2 separate regions of the Homo sapiens genome follow, and region 2 is linked to region 1. A link means that fine-mapping ties the variant in region 1 to the expression of a gene that starts in the linked region. Tissue or cell type: whole blood. Region 1 holds a variant in brackets; the other region holds the start of a gene. All regions are shown on one strand. Distances are between the middles of the regions.

Region 1 (5,000 bases):
CCAGGAGTGTAGCAGAATAAAGTTCTGCTGTTTAAAGCCTCCCAGTTCATGGTACTTTGTTACAGAAGCCCCAGGAAACTCACGCAGTGGCTGGCCCACCCTGCCGGTGCAGCATTCCAATACCCTTCCAGTACCTGTCATTATCCCTGTTCTACAAATAAGGCAGTAAAGGCACGGCAAGTTCCAATGACTGCCTGAGGTTTTGGCTAGTGGCAGAGCAGGAATCAAACCCAGGCCCTCTGATTCCACGCTGCTGCAGTGGATGATCTGGGAAATGTCAGCCGTCCTGTCCCCATCCCTAGCATCCACTAAGAGGAGAGAGTGGGTTCTCAGACTGATGGCATCTTCTGCTTCGTGTTCCTCATTCCAGGAGCTCTGAGGTAGTTATTTTTCTACTGTGAGCATCTGAACTTATTTACTTGACTTCTTAAATATGTACAAGAAAAACATCAGGCCAGACACAGTGGCTCAAGCCTGTAATCCCAACACTTTGATAATCCAAGAGAACCCAAGACAGGTGGATCACTTTGAGCCCAAGAGTTCAAGACCAGCCTGGGCAACATGGAGAAAACCTGTTTCTCCAAAAAAAATTAAAAAGTTAGCCGAGCATGGTGGCTGGCGCCTATAGTCCCAGCTACTCAGGAGGCTGAGGCTGGAGAATCACTTCAGCCCGGGAAGCAGAGGTTGTAGTGAGCCGAGATCAAGCCACTGCACTCCAGCCTGGGCAACAGAGCCAGACCCTGTCTAAAAAAGAAATCTTAAAATAGGGAGCATGTTTTACATACATTTGTGCATTATTTATAATAAAAATTGAAGAGGAGTGAACTCTCATTTTCTTAGCATTTACAGTGTATCTGAAGAATGTGCTTAAGAGATCCTTGGGGAGGTACCCCAAAAAACCCCCGTGTGCAAGGCAATTTAATAAGGGAAGTCTCCAATGTCCTCCTGGAAAGCATAAGAACACTGATACTTCCTTCTCAGATAGCACCTGGTTGGCCAAGTCCTTGTGTAACAAACATAAACGAAATCCACACCAAAAACTGGAGATGATGCACTTTCCCCCACTAGGGTGATTCCTTTTCAAACCTTCAACTCACCCACTGGAGAAGAAACTCAGGTTGCAAGTGAAATCTTACCATTCAAAGTCTAGGATTTTTTTTGTTTCAAATATTGCCTTTTCTCTGTGTTACAAGTATTTTCAAACATGCAGACATGTATTCAGGGCCCAGGTTTAGGGTTTCTCAACTACGGGGATGGAAATGTGGGATGGGGGCAGGGAGTGATGCCGTCAGGATGGGGAAGAGGCCAGGGTTGGGGTCCAGGAAAGAGAATGCCAGGGACCTTCAGAAAGTCAGCAAGACTGAGCCCCAGTGGGGTGTTCCTGGCCAGTTGAGTCTGTCCCTGTCTGCCGTGGTGACCCAGGTTTCTCCATGGAATTCCACCAGCATTGGCTTGCTCTTCTGAGGGCTGCCGCCTCTCGAGCACCCAGAATTTGAATGCCTGGCCTCAGCTACAGAGTACTTGGCCGTCGTGACACATGGCTGGCAGCATCCGACGTGCACGTCTGCTGCTGCCAATAAAGAGAATTGTTTCTTTCTCTGAACAGAGTCCATTTACATTGAGAGAATTTTCCTCTCCTACCTCCACCAGCACTTCCTCCCCGCCCCGCCCCTCCCTCCCCTACCACCCCACAAAAAGGAAAAAGCTTTTGGGGAATTTGTTTTTAGTGGGCTCACTCAAAAGGAGCTTTATGTTTATTTTCTGAGTGGCCTCTGGACTGTTGTGTCCATTTATCATACCTCCCCCGCCTCTCCCTCCCCTCCCACCCACTGGCCCCCATCTCTCCTCTACTCTGAAAACCTAAACTTCATCAAACTGTTCCTAACGACTACCACATGTCTACAGAGGGCACAGGGGGTGGGGGAGGGGGATCTGGGAAATGAAGAAACCCTCCAAGGAGCACAGTAGCGTATTAAAATTCAATGGCTTAGTCATCAGAGTTTTCAGCCCAAGCACCGAAGAAAAATAAATGAATGTTCTGTAACAGTCTTGTGGATCTCGGAGGAAGGGGGTGGCAGGGGAGGGAGAGGAGAGGAGATGTTGTGGTTTTTAGATAGAGGAGTTCATGCTGTAGAGAACAATTAAGGCCTTTGCTCAGAAATAACAAGACACACTACTGTTTTCCTGCTTGCTGGAGGAGTGCATAGTGTCAGGGCTGGCAGGGATTGGTCTGATCGGCCAGCTCTGCTCACGGATGAGGAAACTAAGGCCCAGGCCAGGGATGTGACTTCTTTAGAGTCATATAAGTAGAGGCCAGGTGCAGTGGCTTATGCCTGTAATCCCAGCACTTCGGGAGGCTGAGGCAGGAAGATTGCTTGAGCCCAGGAGTTCAAGGCCAGACTGGGCAATATAGTGAGACCCCATACTTCCGAAAAAAATGTAACAATTTGCTAGGCATGGTGGCATGTGCCTGGAGTCCCAGCTACTTGAGAGGCTGAGGTGGAAGGATTGCTTGAGTGCAGGAGTTTGAGGTTA[C/T]GATGAGCTATGATCGCACCACTGCACTCCAGCCTGGGTGACAGAGTGAGACCCTGTCTCTAAATAAGTAGATAAATAAATAACAAAAATGAATTCGTGGTAGAGATGGAACTGGATCCCCTCAATCATTCTTTCCTCCCAACTCAGGCAGATCTGCTTGGAGTTTCTGATGGTGTTTTATTCTGTTTTTTGAGATGGAGTTTTGCTCTTTTCTCCCAGGCTGGAATGCAGTGGCGTGATCTTGGCTCACTGCAACCTCTGCCTCCAGGGTTCAAGCGATTCTCCTGCCTCAGCCTCCCGAGTAGCTGGGGTTACAGGCACCTGCCACCATGCCCAGCTAATTTTTGTATTTTTAGCAGAGACAGGGTTTCACCATGTTGGCCAGGCTGGTCTCGAACTCCTGACCTCAGATGATCCACCCACCTCGGCCTCCTAAATTGTTGGGTTTACAGGCATGAGCCACCGTGCCCGGCTTTTTTTTTTTTTTTTTTTTTTTTTTCTTGAGACAGAGTTTTGCTCTTGTTGCCCAGGCTGGAGTGCAATGGCATGATCTCGGCTCACCGCAACCTCCACCTCCCGGGTTCAAGCGATTCTCGTCTCAGCCTCCCAAGTAGCTGGGATTACAGGCATGTACCGCCACGCCTGGCTAATTTTGTATTTTTAGTAGAGATGAGGTTTCTCCATGTTGATCAGACTGGTCTGAAACTCCCAGCCTCAGGTGATTTGCCCACCTTGGCCTCCCAAAGTGCTGGGATTACAGGCATGAGCCACCACGCCCAGCCAATTCTGATGGGTTTTAAGAGCATCAGCTCTTGGGCTGAGAACTGCCATGGTGTCCGCAAGGTACTCACCCCATTGAGGGTAGCTGCTTCAGTGACATTGCACCAATGCTGGTGGGCCTTTCTCCACCCATCCTCTCCCCCAGCTAGGCCGGTGAAAGGGCCTGGGTGTTTGTGAGTTGTCTTATATGCTCAGGCTTCAAGGACTCAACCTGCCTCTGGAACTTGTTGCTTCGGTTCTATTTTTCCTTGTATCCCTGCATCTTCCTTAGGAAGGATAGACCAGATTGCCCTTTCCTTTGCTTTTTTCAAATGAAGCGACTGAGTCACGAGGAAGTGAGAGGACTTGGTAAAATCCTGAGTTGATAGTGAAAGAAATGGTTCTGCAATGCACATCTCCCCTTTCCCTGTCCTCCATGCTGATTCAGATCCCTCATTTTGGTGACCAAGGACATTGAATAGGAGAGATATTGTGAAATCTTTGAGCTCAAAGTTTTAGAGGAGAATGAAGCCAAGCCCCTGTTCCGAGGATGAGGAAGTGGGGTCGGGATGAGGAGGGGTCTGGCCAGGGCCAGCAGGCATTACAGGCTCGGGCCAGCAGAAATGTGGCATTCACCCTGGACTAGCTGTGGGACACGCTTCGAACAGTTTAATGTCCCAGGAGGGATTGAAGTGTGGCCAGTCCATGCCACCCACCACTGGTCCCAGAACAGGGAGAGCATTGTAGTTGACTATTATATTGGCTTTGAGTCTCCGTTTGGGCTTCTTTGATCAGCTTGGGAGAAAACTGAAAGAAAAAGGTAGACAAAGTAACCACCCAACTCAGCTAAATTGCTGGCAGCAAAAAGTCAAAGAAAATCAGATTTTCTGAGCAAGTTTGAAAGGTCTCCCTCGAGTAGCTGGGCAAATTCCCATGGATCTGGGCCATGAAGCAACATTTCCAAAGGCATTGGTCTGCTCTTGCTTCCTCTGTGTTATGGCAGAAACACTGGCTGTATCCAGACCTCTGACCGTTCTTCCTGTCCACAGCACAGAGACACATCGCCATGTGCCTGATGTGCTGCCATTGAATCCTAGGGATGGTGTGAATTGAAGAGCCCATCTCACAGAGGAAGAAACTGAGGCCGAGAGAGCTAGGGAAACCCTGCTTTGAACTCTCGGCCTCGAGACTGCTCACTATACTCCCTATTCAGGGCTTCCCTCCAAGCTGCTTCTAGAAGATCAGATGTGTTTGGAGACTCTCCTGATGGCCCTAAAACTCTCGCCCTTTTTCTCCTGCTGGAGAAGCCTAGTAAGAAGGCCTGTGTTACTTCCCTTAGAGAAAACATTGGGAAACTTACCCTGGAAGACCACTGATCTCACAGAGCAAAGCCAGCCAAACGTCAGACTCCATAAAGACGTCAGCATGTTAAGGAGAACCGTCTGGGCCTGCAGTACTCACACACACCAGCCTTGTTAGCAGATGGGTTTATGTTCTCCCTCCCGTGCCACAAATTGCAACCTCCATGGCAGATACCAGTGGGGGACTGGGGTCGGGCCTGAGGACAGTGTCTTGCGCATGCCTGATGTGTGTCGTGTGTCACTTTGTGGGCTAGGAGATAGGGCTCCTGGGGGTAGGTCAGCCCATTCATCCTTGTTTCCCTACTGTGCCTAGAATTGAGCTCTGTCCCCAGAGGGTGCCTACAA
Region 2 (5,123 bases), 92 kb before region 1:
AAAGATAAGAACATTTGATAAATATAACCACACTACCATTACCACATCAAAAAAAAAAAAACAGTTATTCTTTAAGAGCAAACATCGAGGCAGTGTTCCTAATGGTTTCATAATGTCAAATGTTTACTGGCTTTTTAAAACAAATTCAAAATACACATAAGTTCCACACCTTGTAATTGGTTATTATGTCTTTCAAGTCTCTTTAAATGTGTAGGTCTTCTCTCCATCTCTTTCTTTCCTTGAAACTTATTTATTAAAGAAACTCAGTTGTTTGTTCAGAAGCATTTCCCATGGCTGAATTTTGCATAATATATCTTCATGTTGCAGGTCAACATTCACAGGATTCTCAGATTCAGTTGGAGGCATGTTTGATTATCTACACTTTAAGTCATCAAGTAATTTGAATATATTAATATAAATCCCATAGGCTCTTTTTCCCACTCCAGATGATTCCTCCAATAACCTTTCATTCAGTAAGTTCCCCGTTGTAAATTTCCAGTTAAGTAATTCTCTTTAGGTTTGATGGGTGCGCACAACGAAGAAAAGGGGGGACAGGGAAACCTTTCTGAAATTCATTTCCTTTGAATATATCCATTAGAGGGCGACATTGCCTTTAATATTATATTTCCCCAATAAAGTTTTAAATTGCATAAAATTTACTTTTGTATTTTTGACAAGTTGGACCTCATTGCCTACTTTAATTTCTAATCTCACGTCTGTAAAGTGTGACTGCATTCTCCTTTGTTAGTTTGATCTCTGCTGACTTGCGTCTTTGGTATTACAGTACTTCCATCTTTGACTCTGTTCCCAATTCTAACCATCGGGCGGCGATGTTGCATAAATAAAGACCCGCGGAAAGGCAAAATTAAGCGAAACTGCCAAATAAAAAGCAGTTTCACCGGGGGTAAAGGCCATTAATTTAAGAAGGAAAGAGACAAACCAGACATTTCTAGTTCATATCCAACTCACGGCCCAAGGTCAGAACTGTGTAAAATGCAACACAAAGGAGCCATTCAGGAGTGGGGGAGGCTGACTTGGGGAGAGCGAATGCACAATCCCCGCCTTGAGCCTGCGGTTCCACTGGAGGGGGCACAGGTCCGTTTGCGCACGTGCGTGTGAGTAGCCACAGGGCAGCGGCGGGACATGCCTGCACCGGGCATGGGACTGCTGAACCAACAGCGCTCTGGCGGACCGTTTGGGACACCCGCCCGGAGGCAGGTTGGCACTGGCGCTGCCTGGAGGTCAGCCACTCATTGTACCCCGGAGGAACTGGGTCCCGCGGGGGCATACGGCTCGCCCACCGGCACGCGTTAGGAGGCGAACACCTGCATCCAGCTAGGTGTTCCGAGCTCAGCCCAGGGCGAGGGACTGCTCTGCCACCTTCTTCTCATTCTTCCTGTAAGAACACTGTCTATCTCGGACAAAAAGGACCCACCTGACAGCAAGTGGTATCGTCACACAGAGGTAACAGGGAAGTCACGGATCCTCTTGAGAATCTGACAAAAGTTGGTGCCCCTTCCCCATAGTGGCACTCAGAAAACTGCAGGTGAAACCACAAATGGGCGGAGGCACTCACAGGCTTCCTGGGGCCCGTCCATTGATCAGATACCAGGTTAAGAAATTCTGTCCTTATTGGAGCCTAGACGGCAGCGCAAAGGAACCAGACGGACTTGGAAAGAGAGGCAGGGACTCCCTCCTCCCTCCAAACACAGCCAGCGTTTCATCTCGGATTGCGGGAGGGGCCTGGCGGAAGGTGGAGGAGAGGTGGAGCGCCTGGATGGGGCCCTCCCCATTCTCCTGGCCCCAACCCCAGGACGCCTGGCTGCGGAGGGCTCGAAAGCGAGCAGCGAACGCCCAAAGCCTGGGTGGCGGGAAGGTGGCAGCGCCCTGTAGCTTTTCCTTTGCATTTTTCTTTAAATCGTGAGCTCCGGAGCTATCGTTTCGACCGCTGCTTTCCGGTCTCCACCTCCACCTCCCAGTTGGCTGGCTCGCCCTTCCCCCACCCCCCCATCCCCCCCATCCCCCCCCATCCCCACCCCCATCCCAGCCGCGTGCCCGACCCTCGGCCTCCAGCCCCGCCTCCTTCGCCGCGGGGTTTAACCCGAGGCAGAGTGAAATCTGCATAGTGACCGCCCCCTCGGAGATCATTGGTGCAGCCCCGCCCATCGCGGCCGGTGATTGGTAAGCCGCCCGGGGTTATTTGCATGTCGGACGCAGCCGGGTACCCAGCTGTGCTGCCGGCCGGCGCAGCGCAGAAGTTTGCAGAGCGCTTTCTCGCCGGCTGGTCCCGGACTCGCGCTGCGCCCTGCGCCCTGCGCCGCCGCCTCCTCCTTCTGCCGCCGCCGCCCTGTTCTCCCGGGATTCCTTCTCTGTGGAGGACTGACTCTCTGCTTGTGGGAATTAGAGGTGGACAAGGGGGAGTGCCGGGGGGTAGCGACGGGGTTCTTTCCAGTGGCAGCTGCGAGTCGGGACGCCGGGAGCGTGGGGCTCCTGCTGGCCACGGATCTCGGCCACCTTCCCGCGGCCTCCGGGCAGGCAATGCGGCCGCCGAGCCCCGCGACGCAGAGAGGAAGGAGGGTGGCCCGGAGGGCCTAGAGCTTGTTTCTGCCCACTTGGGAAAGAGGGCATGGAGTTGTGAGTGCCCCTCGCTCGGCGACGCCGCCCTCGGCAGGCTCCCCATGGCCGGGACGTACAGCTCGACTCTGAAGACGCTGGAGGACTTGACCTTGGACTCCGGGTATGGGGCCGGGGACTCGTGCCGCTCGCTCAGCCTCTCGTCCTCCAAGTCCAACTCGCAGGCGCTCAACTCTTCGGCGCAGCAGCACCGCGGGGCGGCCTGGTGGTGCTACTCCGGCTCCATGAACAGCCGCCACAACAGCTGGGACACGGTGAACACGGTGCTGCCCGAGGACCCCGAAGTGGCCGACCTCTTCTCGCGCTGTCCGCGGCTCCCCGAGCTGGAGGAGTTCCCCTGGACCGAAGGAGACGTGGCCCGGGTGCTCCGCAAAGGCGCTGGCGGCCGGCGGCTGCCCCAGTTCTCCGCCGAGGCGGTGAGGCGCCTGGCCGGGCTGCTCCGCAGGGCACTGATCCGCGTGGCCCGCGAGGCGCAGCGCCTGAGCGTGCTGCACGCCAAGTGCACCCGCTTTGAGGTGCAGAGCGCCGTGCGCCTGGTGCACAGCTGGGCGCTGGCCGAGAGCTGCGCGCTGGCAGCCGTCAAGGCGCTGTCCCTGTACAGCATGAGCGCCGGCGACGGGCTGCGCCGGGGCAAGTCCGCGCGCTGCGGCCTCACCTTCTCAGTGGGTCGCTTTTTCCGCTGGATGGTGGACACCCGAATCTCCGTGCGCATCCACGAGTACGCAGCCATCTCCCTCACCGCCTGCATGGAGAACCTGGTGGAGGAGATCCGGGCCAGGGTGATGGCCAGCCACAGCCCTGATGGCGGAGGGGCCGGAGGCGGGGAGGTGTCTGCTGAGGCCCTGGAGATGGTCATCAACAACGACGCCGAGCTCTGGGGCGTCTTGCAGCCCTATGAGCATCTCATCTGCGGCAAGAACGCCAATGGTAAGCGCGCGGGCCTCGGACTGGCAGACTGGGTAGGCAAGAAATCCCGCCCTGGGCTACTGGGGGAGTGAATTTCCTGAGACAAAGCTGGTGGCTGTGCCAGTTCTTTGGGAGAAAACGTTTGGTCTGAGGATAGGGTTCATTACATGGCACTTGCCAGAGATTGTTCTAAGGGTGTCTGACTTTTGGAGGGTAAACTTGTGAATGATCTCCATCCTGTTCTGCGTGGCATTGTTACTATCTGCGGGCTGTTCATTGATTGGGTGAGATTGAATCTCTTGACCAAGCCATTCCTGAACCTCTCTTGAAATGAAACTTACTGCCCCGTGGCTCTTTACCGTGATTGACTAGGTCTCTAGCTGCTGTCTTTCCCCAACAGCTGGTTAGATTGACTGATTCTGCCCCCTAGTTTTCCCCAGCTCAATAGCAGCAACCAAAGGGTCCCAACTTAAAGACCTGAACCTTGGATAAGTAAGATGGGCGGAGGGAAGTGGGAAGCCCAAGATCTGGTGCTGCGCCTTGTGCTTTGCTGGGCTGAAGGATGCTGTCAGGCGCTCTCTTGGGGGATGGAGGGGTAGTGGTTCGCTCTTACCTATATGTGCCCAGGAATGATGAAACCTGGGGACCCCGACTCCCCTTCCCAGAAAAGTAACCACAGATTGTCTCCTGAGACCTGATTTTTCCAAGCTGTCACCAACCAAGTGAGCCATTGGTTAAAACCTTGCATTGTATTAAATGTTCTTTCCTGAAAAGAGTGGTGGCCCATCAAGGGGAAGAGATAGGTAACCGCATGGGGTCAAGTCTGGGAAAGGAACCATTGGGTGGTTGCACTTCCCTGAAGATAGCATGGATTTGGTGCAAAGGATGGAAACAAAGCACATGACCTTTTCCCTGACAATGTTAGGGGGTGTGACATTGCATTCAACTGCAAACTACCTACAAGACTTCAGTTTGAGAAGTCAGCACCATAAACTGTTCAGAATGGTATTATGGTTAAACAGCCTTACGATCTGATTGGAAGGCCATTTGGGGGGCAGCTTTCAGTGGCAAATAAGCAGGCAGTGGAAGAGGTCAGGTGGGGACTGGAAAGGGATAAAAGAAGTCAAAACATGGTTTAACATAATCATAATAGCTGAAATGCAAAATAACCCTTAATGTGTCGTCATTATTCTCAGCACTTTGTATTTAACTCAAGTACTCCTAGCAAGCCTATTAGGTAGGTACTTACTGCATAGTATGATGCCCATTTTACAGATAAGGAAACCAAGGTACCCAGCAGTTAAATAATCTGCCCAACATTACATAGATGTTAAATGGCAAAACTGGAATTTGAATCCAGTTTGAATCCAGGTAGGCCCCTTTAAGGTTCTAGATGCTGGTGGAGAAGAAACAGCTTTGTTTTTCTGGTTTGTTGTTGTTGTTTGTTTGTTTGTTTTTCTTACTGGACTATAGCTCTCAGATCTTATGCTTTGTTTTTTGATTAGCCCAGTTTTCGAGAACAGTTGACATGTTAGGCCCATTTTGAAGACACTCTGTACCAAGCATGGCTTACTTTGACATTA

What was found. PIP is the estimated chance that this variant, and not a neighbour inherited with it, causes the effect.
Region 2: it holds the start of ABTB2, and the variant in region 1 is fine-mapped to the expression of ABTB2 in whole blood (TOPMed, PIP 0.91).

The regions. Positions count from the first base shown.
Region 1 is chr11:34,263,696-34,268,695 of GRCh38, reverse strand. All of the region lies in intron 1 of ABTB2 (ankyrin repeat and BTB domain containing 2), which reads left to right. Among named protein-coding and RNA genes, the nearest start is that of ABTB2, 92 kb to the left of the region's middle. The variant C/T (reference allele first, on the strand shown) is at 2,536.
Region 2 is chr11:34,355,139-34,360,261 of GRCh38, reverse strand. ABTB2 (ankyrin repeat and BTB domain containing 2) reads left to right here and starts at 2,252. Exons shown (of 17, transcript NM_145804.3): 1 at 2,252-3,561. The coding sequence starts at 2,679. RefSeq lists a silencer at 2,067-2,266 and an enhancer at 3,217-3,326.